Linked DNA regions of Homo sapiens. The protein of the gene in region 3 purifies or fractionates together with the protein of the main gene of each other region. This does not show direct contact. Each region holds a gene or a part of one and is shown on either strand. Other genes may lie near its edges.

The links.
Region 1: the proteins of DNAJC11 (region 3) and RNF214 purify together in Homo sapiens (affinity purification with mass spectrometry; 2 studies listed by BioGRID and IntAct, with this or other methods). This does not show direct contact.
Region 2: the proteins of DNAJC11 (region 3) and MTCH2 purify together in Homo sapiens (affinity purification with mass spectrometry; 2 studies listed by BioGRID and IntAct, with this or other methods). This does not show direct contact.

What each region holds. Positions count from the first base shown.
Region 1 is NC_000011.10:117,235,564-117,239,313, forward strand, and holds part of RNF214 (RING finger protein 214), read left to right. Parts: intron 1-3,037; coding exon 3,038-3,548; intron 3,549-3,750.
Region 2 is NC_000011.10:47,635,928-47,639,677, forward strand, and holds part of MTCH2 (mitochondrial carrier homolog 2), read right to left. Parts: intron 3,125-3,750; coding exon 3,040-3,124; intron 2,879-3,039; coding exon 2,772-2,878; intron 1-2,771. UniProt on the Homo sapiens protein: Protein insertase that mediates insertion of transmembrane proteins into the mitochondrial outer membrane. Catalyzes insertion of proteins with alpha-helical transmembrane regions, such as signal-anchored, tail-anchored and multi-pass membrane proteins.
Region 3 is NC_000001.11:6,700,051-6,703,800, forward strand, and holds the start of DNAJC11 (dnaJ homolog subfamily C member 11), read right to left. Parts: upstream 1,767-3,750; 5' UTR 1,751-1,766; coding exon 1,679-1,750; intron 1-1,678.

The DNA.
Region 1 (3,750 bases), on a different chromosome or scaffold from region 3:
ACCCAGCTCACTGCAACCTCCGTCTCCTGGGTTCAAACGTCTCCTGGATTCCCTTACCTCAGCCTCCCAAGTAGCTAGGATTACAGCCGCCCAGCACCACGCCTGGCTAATTTTTGTATTTGAGTAGAAACGGGGTTTTGCCACGTTGGCCAGACTGGGTATTTTACTTTTCAGTGATTTATTTTTATATTTTAAAAAATGGACACGATAATTGTACGTATTCATGGGGGTACATAGTGATGTTGTGGTGTATGTGATGTATAGTGATCAGATCAGGGTAATTAGCATGTCCATCATCACAAACGTTTATCCTTTTGAATATTTTCAGTCCATGGTTGGTTGAGTCCATGAATGTGGACCACATTCTACATAAAGAGGCTGACTGTGTATTCTTCCTCAACTCTGTTTTTTTTTTGAGAGAGACTCTTGCCCTGTCCCCCAGACTGGAGTGCAGTGGTGCGATCTTGGCTCACTGCGACCTCTGCCTCCCGGGTTCAAGTGATTCTCCTGCCTCAGCCTCCCTAGTAGCTGGGATTATAGGCACCTGCTTGGTAGCCCGGCTAATTTTTGTATTTTTAGTGGAGACCGGGTTTCACCATGTTGACCAGACTGGTCTTGAACTCCTGACCTCAAGTGATCTGTCCGTCTTGGCCTCCCAAAGTGCTGGAATTACAGGGATGAGCCACTGCACCTAGCTCCGTCAATTTTTTTGTTTTTTTTTTGTTCTTGAGATGGCATCTTGCTCCGTCACCCAGGCTGGAGTGCAGTGGCGCGATTTCCGCTCACTGCAACCTCTGCCTCCCGAGTTCAAGCGATTCTCCTGCCTAAGCCTCCTGAGTAGCTGGGACAACAGGCGCCCGCCACCACACCCGGCTAATTTTTTGTATTTTAGTAGAGGCAGAGTTTCACCATGTTGTCCAGGATGGTCTCGATCTTCCGACCTTGTGATCCGCCCGCCTCAGCCTCCCAAAGTGTTGGGATTACAGGCATGAGCCACCGCACCTGGCCGTCCCTCAACTCTTTTCCAGTGTACCTGGGTCCCCTAATACAGTAGCTAACACTTAACTACAGTTCCATACGTGGTAACACATTTAATCTTCACAACAGTCCCAGGAGGTAGTGATAATATTATTCGCATTTACCGGTGAGGAAACTGAGACACAGAGAGGTTAGTAATTTGCCCAAGGTTTCCAAGCTATGTTGGAGTCAGAGTTTTGATAAATAAAATCAACTTCATACACTAGTAATAATGGCAGCTAAGGTTTATTGAATGTTTACTATGTGCCAGGCACTGTACTGAGTACTTTATGTGCATTATCTCATGTAATCCTCACAACAGTCTTGTTAGGTGGATAGTATTATTTCTGTTTTACAAATGAGGTAACTTGCCGAGAGTCAAACAGCTTGTAAATGGTGGGCGGAGTCAGGATTCAAACTCAGGTACTGTATATGCCTGAATTTTTAATTAAGCACCCGCTCACAGTTAACTCCCAGCAGGAAGGAATCAGCTTCGAGTGTTTTTATTAATATTATTGAGACAGGGTCTCCATCTGTCATCCAGGCTGGAGTACAGTGGTGCGATCATGGCCTACTGCAGCCTCCACCTCCTGGGCTTAAGCAGTCCTCTCACTTCAGCCTCCCAAGTAACTGAAGCTACAGGTGCACGCCACTACACTTGGCTAATTTTTAAATTTTTATGTAGAGAGAGGGTCTTGCTATGTTTCCCAGGCTAGTCTTGAACTCCTGACCTCAAATGATCCTCCTGCCTTGACCTCCCAAAGTGTTGGGATTACAGGCATGAGCCATTGCTCCCCAGCGAGATATTCTTTCAGTTGTTTTATTTTGAACTAGTACGACTGAGGAAACAAAGACGCATCAACTTGAATCCCCATTGCTAGTTGGGTATGGTTAAGAGTGTCAGTTATAGAATTAGTTTAAAAAAAGAGGGTGGGGTCAAAGAAATTAAACATAGGCGTAATTCCTGGGTGAAAGATGTGCAATTGTGAATGTTGGATGTCATTGTAAATATGTTTTAAAGTCCCCTTTAAAAAGCAGTACCTCACTTCAGCCTGGGTGACAAAGTGAAACCCTGTCTCAAAAAATAAATAAATAAATAAAAAATAAAAGCAATACCTTGAATGGCTGTGACAAGTGACAGAATATCCTAATGTTAAGCATATGTATACTTACTGTGTGGGATAAAATTTCTATTGACAGCTTCAATTTTGGATTCAAAATTGTACTTTAGACAACTTAAAGTGTAGGTTCTATACTCTGGAAAACTGTTGAAGAACCTAAAAAGTGGTTCTGGTCAAAGATCTGTATAATGAGTTTGAATGAAAATTATTCCTGTGAAAGGTGAGAGAGGAATAAAAACAATACTTCTAAGTTAATATTTGATTATAATATTATGTATAACTAAATTAATACATGTAACTAAATTAAATATTCTAACTAGTATTAGGCTAATTCATCGGTATCCCCAAAAGTTATTAAAATTGGCACTCAAAAATTATTTGGATCTTCAGAATCATTTATGTTTGGCCATTTACTGTAGAACCCAGGTTTTTGGCCAGCTCACGCCTATAATTCCAACACTTTGGGAGGCTGAGGCAGGCAGATGGATCCCTTGAGTACAGGAGTTCGAGACCAGCCTGGGCAACATGGCAAAACCGTGCAAAAAATACAAAAAATTAGCTGGGCGTAGTGGCATGTGCCTGTAGTCCTAGTTACTCACAAGTCTGAGGTGGAGGATTGCTTGAGCCAAGGATGTTGAGACTGTAGTGAGCCTTGATGGCGGCACTGCACTCTAGCTTGGGTGACAGAGTTTAGAACCTCTCTAAAAACAAAACCAAAAACAAAAAACTAGGTCTTAACCACCAGGCTATACTACCTGCATACAGGATAGAAATCATTGGATTGAAACTAAGTTCTTTCATTATGATAGTCGGGAGGGTTTACGTAGTCTAGTTTTGTTCTTCTAGTAGTTAGGTTGAAAGTATTATATACTTTTCTTTTTATCTTGTGTGTTTGATAGCACCAAAGACTCTGCACAGAAGCAGAAGAACTCGCCTCTGTTGAGTGTAAGTAGCCAAACAATAACCAAGGAGAATAACAGAAATGTCCATTTGGAGCACTCAGAGCAGAATCCTGGTTCATCAGCAGGTGACACCTCAGCAGCGCACCAGGTGGTTTTAGGAGAAAACTTGATAGCCACAGCCCTTTGTCTTTCTGGCAGTGGGTCTCAGTCTGATTTGAAGGATGTGGCCAGCACAGCAGGAGAGGAGGGGGACACAAGCCTTCGGGAGAGCCTCCATCCAGTCACTCGGTCTCTTAAGGCAGGGTGCCATACTAAGCAGCTTGCCTCCAGGAATTGCTCTGAAGAGAAATCCCCACAAACCTCCATCCTAAAGGAAGGTAACAGGGACACAAGCTTGGATTTCCGACCTGTAGTGTCTCCAGCAAATGGGGTTGAAGGAGTCCGAGTGGATCAGGATGATGATCAAGATAGCTCTTCCCTGAAGCTTTCTCAGAACATTGCTGTACAGGTCAAGTGTCAAGTTTCTACTACTAAAATGTAATTGGGGGGTGGTGGGGTTCAGGGTGGGAGATATTTCTTCATATTTGGTGGAGAACTTGCTGGCTTGTTTTGTTTTTTGTTTTTTTTGCTAGCAACCATCATACTACTCTCATACAGTGCCATACAATGACTTCATTCTGATGTTCAGTAAATAAGAAAGCCAGTAGCCA
Region 2 (3,750 bases), on a different chromosome or scaffold from region 3:
GTCTAGCCTGGCCAACATGGTGAAACCCCATCTCTACTAAAAATACAAAAATTAGCGGAGCATTGGGGCGCACGCTTTTAATCCCAGCTCTTAGGGAGGCTGGGGCAGGAGAATCACTTGAACCCAGGAGGCAGAGGTTGCAGTGAGCCAAGATCACGCCACTGCACTGCAGCCCAGGTGACAGAGCAAGAGTCCGTCTCAAGAAAAAAAAAAAGAAAAGGGAAGGCTGGGTGCGGTAGCTCACGCCTATAATCTCAGCACTTTGGGAGGCCAAGGCAGGTGGATCACCTGAGGTTAGGAATTTGAGACCAGCCTGGCCTACGTGGTGAAACTCCATCTCTACTAAAAGTACAAAAATTAGCTGGGCTTGGTGGCGGGCGCCTGTAATCCCAGCTACTTGGGAAGCTGAGACAGGAGAATTGCTTGAACCCGGGGGGTAAAGACTGCAGTGAGCTGAGATCACATCACTGCACTCCAGCCTGGGCAACAGAGCAAGACTCCATCTCAGAAAAAAAGAAAAGGGGCCGGGCATGGTGCCTCACGCCTGTAATCCCAGCACTTTGCGTGGCTGAGGCAGGCGGATCACCTGACGTCAGGAGTTTGAGAACAGCCTGGCTGACATGGCGAAACCCCCTCTCTACTAAAAATACAAAAATTAGCTGGGCGTGGTGGTAGGTGCCTGTAATCCCAGCTACGTGGGAAGCTGGGGCAGGAGAATTGCTTGAACCCGGTAGGTGGAAGCTGCAGTGAGCCGAGACCATGCCATTGCACTCCAGCCTGGGCAACAAGAGTGAAACTCTGTCTCAAAAAAAAACAACAAAAAAACCCAAAAAACGAAAAGGGAACATGCGCAGTGACTCACGCCTGTAATCCCAACACTTTGGAAGGCCGAAGAGGGAGGACTGCTTGAGCCCAGGAATTCAAGACCAGACTGGGCAACATAGTGAGACTTTGTCTCTAAAAAAATAATAATAAATTTAAAGAAATAATTACAAAATAAGAACAACAACAAAAAAGAAAATTCAAGAACTCTGTTTTTTTTTTTTTTTAGATGGAGTTTCACTCTTGTCACCCAGCTGGAGTGCAATGGTGCAATCTCGGCTCACTGCTGGAGTGCAATGGTTCAATCTCAGCTCACTACAACCTCTACCTCCCAGATTCAAGCGATTCTCCTGCCTCAGCCTCCTGAGTAGCTGGGATTACATGCGCCCACCACCACGCCTGGCTAACATCTGTATTTTTAGTAGAGACAGTGTTTCACCATGTTGGCCAGGCTGGTCTCAAACTGCTGACCTCGGCTGATCCACCCGCCTCAGCCTCCCAAAGTGCTGGGATTACAGGCATGAGCCACTGCGCCTGGCCAAGAACTTTCAGTTTTAACAGAAAATAAGTCAGTAAAAACATAGCCCAGGGTTCCCACTTTTCTCATGGAAAACGCATGACCAATACCAAATTAGGGCAAGACTCTTTTCTTCCCTGCATAAAAGGACAGAGAATTGATATTAAGACTGAAGAGCTGAAATCGCCTCACTTTCTCCTTTGTATCTGATGGTTTCTAAAACAAGCAAGAGGTTTTTTTTTTCTCTTCTAGAGAAGAGATCATGAATACTGCCAGAGCCCAGAGAAAAATTCTTGCAAGAGGAATTTTTTGTGGCGTATTTTGGAAATAGAATGTGAGCTAGGTGAAAATAAAATTATCAATTGAGAGCTCCTTCTTGTGTAACCACCAGTTTTATTGTTTTCTTATTTTTTAATGTCAGTTTTATTATTTTCTAGCCATATCAGATTTCAAAAATAGACAACATTTTCTCTTGTAAAAAGAATTGTGTTTAAAAAAATCACGGGCAAGAGAACAAATGTGAAGATAAAGCAAAGTAATGTATTTTGGCCAAATTCCAGGTCCTTGGCTAGAATTAATTCTAATAGCTTCAGGTCTCTAAATTTTCACTTGTTTCTATACTTTGTTATTTACTCCATCGATATAATTATCTAACCTGTCTTCTACATTTCCTGAATTTCATTTTAATTCTTGTTCAGTTTACAAAATTATTTCTTGTAAAGGTTAATAATTTTCTCAGCCCTGCATAGATCCTTCTTCTTGACTGTACAAGCAGCTTTGGATGCTAAGTGTAGTACCAACCCTGTAATATTTCACTGGACTACATTTGGAACATATTCAGGGTACCTGGTTACCTCAAGTTTGTCTTACTTTACAGTTACATAAAGTAACTTAGTCTCAAGCAGCACTTTCTCTTTTTCTCTAAGTCTATACACAAACCTCTTTGGCTAGATGACAACTGCCTTTCCATATGTAAATTTCATGGAAGTAACAGCAACAATTTCACTGAGTCCCGCCGGGCGCGGTGGCTCATGCTTGTAATCCCAGCACTTTGGGAGGCCGAGGCGGGCGGATCACGAGGTCAGGATATTGAGAACACGGTGAAACCCTGTCTCTACTAAAAATACAAAAAATTAGCCGGGCGCAGTGGCGGGAGCCTGTAGTCCTAGCTACTCAGGCTGAGGCAGGAGAATGACGTGAACCCGGCAGGCGGAGTTTGCAGTGAGCCCAGATCGCGCCACTACACTCCAGCCTGGGCGACAGAGTGAGACTCCATCTCAAAAAAAAAAAAAAAAAAAAAGAAAGTGTTTTTCAAGAGGAAGAAAGGACAGGGTTATAAATGTATCTTTTAAATTGCTCTTGATATTTAGAACAAACTATGCATAACAGGTAAGCAACATCTATGGGAAGATTGATTTAATTTTCCTCTTACCTGTAAAACTTTACCATGGACCACAGTTCCAAGGACTCCCGAACACAGTCTTGGAGTTAAGCCTGTGAACAACCCGCGCCTCCCATCGATACTGGCAATGTGCTGAGCTAAGAACACAAGTCAGAGATGTTGTCAAGTTCTGGTCAAGAGAAATGGATATACTACAATTTCAAAGAAACAAGCTTTCTATATATTTTCTTTCAATAACAACTCCTGCCTATCACAGTCCTCAACGTCATGCAAACCCAAATAAATCAAAGGCACTTACCATAACTAAAGAGACCAGGAAGCTGACACACTTGCCGCCCAAAAATATTTCGTCCTATTGTTGGAGGAAGAGGCTCATATCCCACCTTTAAAAACAATGGAATATATCAATATTAAAGCAATATTTCCAGAAATGTCTTGCTTGCAAGGTCTTGAATAAAGAACACAATTTGGGTTATTTTTAAACACAAGTAAAAATGCAGCATAGGTTTTCCAAGGCAATGATGAAGCATCATTCTTGTAGGTTTTTCTTCTGTTGGTAATACTGAGTTCAATAAACTCCAAGTTTCATTTTGGTTCAAATTCTATGACGTAAACCATGTAGCTGAAATAGGCTAATATCAAACTGAAAGAAGGGAACTTTTGCGTTAGGAAAGCTACAGTTTACTAAGGGGGCTCAAAAATACCTTCTAAATAAAATCTAAGGCACATTTTGTATTTGAACAAAACTAGAAGACATCCATTACGCCAGCATCAGCTGCATATTTGGCAACCCAGACAAAACACTCAAAAGGCAAATGCAGATATAGCTGGATAATTCACTTAGGAAAGAATTACAAGCTAACTTCATGTTAGAAGAACAGGCTGTCGGTCGGGCGCAGTGGCTCATGCCTTGTAATCCCAGTACTTTGGGAGACCGAGGGGGATGGATCACCTGAGGTCAGGAGTTCGAGACCAGTCTGGCCAACATGGTGAAACCCTGTCTCTACTA
Region 3 (3,750 bases):
AACTGAAGATATTCCACCATGGTGATTTACTCCTGCCCCACCCTAACTGGTCAATTGGCCTTATGACAATACACGCTCCCCGCCCTTGTGATAATGTACTTTGTGATATTCCGCCCTTAAGAAGGTACTTTGTAATATTCTCCCCACTCTTGAGAATGTACTTTGTGAGATCCACCCCCTGCCCACAAAAAATTGCTCCTAACTCCACCGCCTATCCCAAACCTATAAGAACTAATGATAATCCCACCACCCTTTGCTGACTCTCTTTTCGGACTCAGCCCATACGCACCCAGGTGATTAAAAAGGTTTATTGCTCACACAAAGCCTGTTTGGTGGTCTCTTCACACGGACGCGCGTGACACTCAAGGATACAGTACCAGAACTAGCAGCTTTGTAGTCCAAGGACTGGTAAGGTAAGGTGACAGACTAGCATGGAGCTCACAAGCTGGGCTCCAGAGTCAGACTGCCTGGGTTGAGTTCAGGCTCTTGCACTTTCTAGTAGTGTGACTTTAGACACACTACTTAATCTCTCTATGCCTTGGTTTCCTCAAGTGTAAATCAAGGGCTATCATAATACTTACCTTAAGAGCTATCCTCAGAATTAAATGAGATAACAGTACAAAGTTCATTCAGCATAGTGGTCCCACACAAGATAAGTTTGTATTATTAACATCACATAGACTAATATTTACTGACAACACACACTGAACCCGCTTTGGTTAGCATAGCCAAACTTGGCTAGCTTTCATTACCACTGGAAAACCTGAGAGATGGAATTAGGAATTCTCTGGCAGGGCTGAAAAGTCTGGACCCATCGGCTTAAAGAAACTGATCCACCTCATGACCTGACCCTGGAAGCCTTCTCGCCCTTCACACCTATCTCAACTCCAGACTAGTCAAGAACAAAGGAGTGTAGTGGGGCCCTACTACTGCCAGGCTATGTGAGACTCTCTCATGTTATCTTTTATTCGTTGAGGAGACAGGGTACAAGTGCTTGGTGTGAATGTTGAAGCTGTTGTTAGGGCACCACTTTTCTGGCCTAGGGCTTCTTCCTAATCTGCAGCCTCCGAGCCGAGGGTCTGTGTCCCGGAGGCTCTGCCTGCAATTTCTGGACATCGGGTCCAGGGGAATGAAAGAGGGCATGAGACGCATGCCTCTGAGGCTGGACCCACTTCAGAGGCAGAGCGTCCCCACGAAAGACTCGGGAACCGGAAAAAGCCCTAAGGACGTTCCCTAGTGGCCTTGACCTTGGTGGGTGAGACTCAGTTCGCCATCCTGCTGGCGGCGGGCGATGACACAGCCCCTCAGCCAGGACGAGTATGTGGGCTGAGCGCGAGACGGGGTCTCGGAGGACTGCTAACCCCACTACGGTGGCCTCCTCGGGGCCCCCGTTTCCTCTTGAGCGTGCGGGGGCCTCTGGCCCTACCCGGACACAGTGCACGCGGCGCACTGGCCTTCAGGAGCTGGGGCGGAGGCTGGCCCCGGAACCCCCGGCGGGAGGGTCTGGGCGGTGGGGACGCCTCCATCGGGCGGCTGGCGTGCACGTCGCCGGGGTCACGCGGCCTCCCCGACGGACCCGAGCCTCCCGTGGCGGGGGTGGGGCGGCCACCGCCAGCCCGGCCCTCCCGAACGACCGGGCTCGGCCTCAGCCCCCAGAGCGTCCAGCCGCTGGCCTCACCTCCCTGCGCACGTTCAGCAACGAGTAATAGTCTTCATTGTCCAGCTCCTCCTCGCTCAAGGCCGTCGCCATCTTCGCAACCTTTCACCCCGCCAAACCGGCAAGGCCGTGCTCAAGAGGGGCCAGTGATCCGCGTCAGGGACAGCGCGGGCCAGCCCGGCTGCGCCACAGCGGCCCCTGGCGGCCCGGAGCCGTCCGCGCCCGGCGGGAGTGCGCCTGCGCTTTGCGCCCCCGCGCGGCCTAGGGCGGGACGCGGCGCCTAGGCAGCCCTGGCGGGGTGACCACGCGGGTGTCTCTTCGTGCTCCCAATGGACGCGTGGCACGCGGCGTGGCTGCGTCCTCGGGGGCCTGAGATCCAGCCAGGACTCCCTAGGGCTTTTCCTGTACTAGAAAGGGAAACTTTGCTTTTTTTTTTTTTTTTTGAGACGGAGTCATACTCTGTCGCCCAGCCTGGTGTGTGTGCAGTGGCGCAATCCCGGCTCACTGAAGCCTCCACCTCCCGGGTTCAAGCGATTCTCCTGCCTCAGCCTCCCGAGTAGCTGGGACTCCAGGCGCGCGCCACCACGCCCAGTTAATTTTTTTGTATTTTTGGTAGAGACACGGTTTCACCATGTTGGCCAGGCTGGTCTGAGGCTCCTGAACTCAGGAGATCCTCGGCCTCCCAAAGTGCTGGGATTACAGGCATGAGCCACCGCGTCCTGCCTAGAAAGGGAAACTTTGAAGTCACCTCCAGGAGATTGTCATCCTCTGGGAGACAAACCCCTGTGATACCACCTGTTACCCCACTGGCCCCAAACTCCTGGAAGAAGCGCGAGGTGCCCCCAGTGCAGGGTGCATCCGGATCCTAGATATCCCCCAAATGACATTTGTTCCTACCTCCATTGTCTTTTCTCTTGGCCACCCAGAAGCCTTCCTGCCCAGAACAGGCCTCCTCATTTTAGTTATTTGTTATTGCTCTAATTTAGGAGCACCTGGCCATCTTTTCTGCTGCTTAAATGACAAAGCAATAACTATTTGGTTCCTGATATAATTGTCTCTGGCAGGCATGTGTACCTGCAGTCCCTACCCCAGAGCCATTCTCCTGTAAATTTCTCCCTTATAATTTATCGGTGGAGTCTAATTGATTTCAACCTGGTGCCTGCTGTTTGGTGCATTATTAAAGATGTCTTGGTTACAACAATCTAAATAATTTAAAGGTCTTCGAAATGACGCCATTGTCAAGGGAAGGTGGACAGCAGCCCACTCTTGCCACCTGTTTGGTTCCCGCTGACCTGCGCAAGTCTCAGAAACCTTTGTTGTTCCTTCACTAACCACCAGTCCATAGCCATCCCCGTTGCCCTTCATAAGCAGGTCTCCTGGGAAGCCCCGAACACCTGTCTGTGGATTTGAGAGGCTGATTTCTTTCTCTTTCTAATTTTTGGCCAGATGTGCACCATCTGGGCCTGTGTCTCATCCCTTCCAAGTTGCCCAGCCCTCTTAGGATCTTTTGGCATGAGACACTTCGGTGTGCTGAGACAGATTGTTCGGGTGGGTTGAGTCAGCCTGAAACAAACTGTCAGCCCAGGTTGTAAATTAAGGGCTATTTCTTTAGTTGTGTGAAGCTTCTCCACAACAGCTTCCATGGTCCATCAGCTCTTCCAGCAATGTTATGGGCTTTGCCTTTTTCTCCTTTGCAGAGAAAAGAGCTGTGGTTAGGGCCAAACTGCATGCTGACATTTGACAGTCTTTAAGAATTTCTTTCTTTTTTTTTTTTTTTGTTTGAGACAGAGTCTCACTCGGTCGCCCAGGCTGGAGTGCAGTGCCACGATCTTGGCTCACTGCAACCTCCGCCTCCCGGGTTCAAGCGATTCTCCTGCCTCAGCCTCCCAAGCAGCTGGGACTACAGGCGTGCGCCATCACGCCCAGCTAATTTTTGTATTTTTAGTAGAGACGGGGTTTCACCATATTGGCCAGGCTGGTCTCGAACTCCTGACCTCGTGATCCACCTGCCTCGGCCTCCCAAAGTGCTGGGATTACAGGCGTGAGCCACCGCACCCGGCCAAGAATTTCATACAGAGAGACTGGGGGTAAAA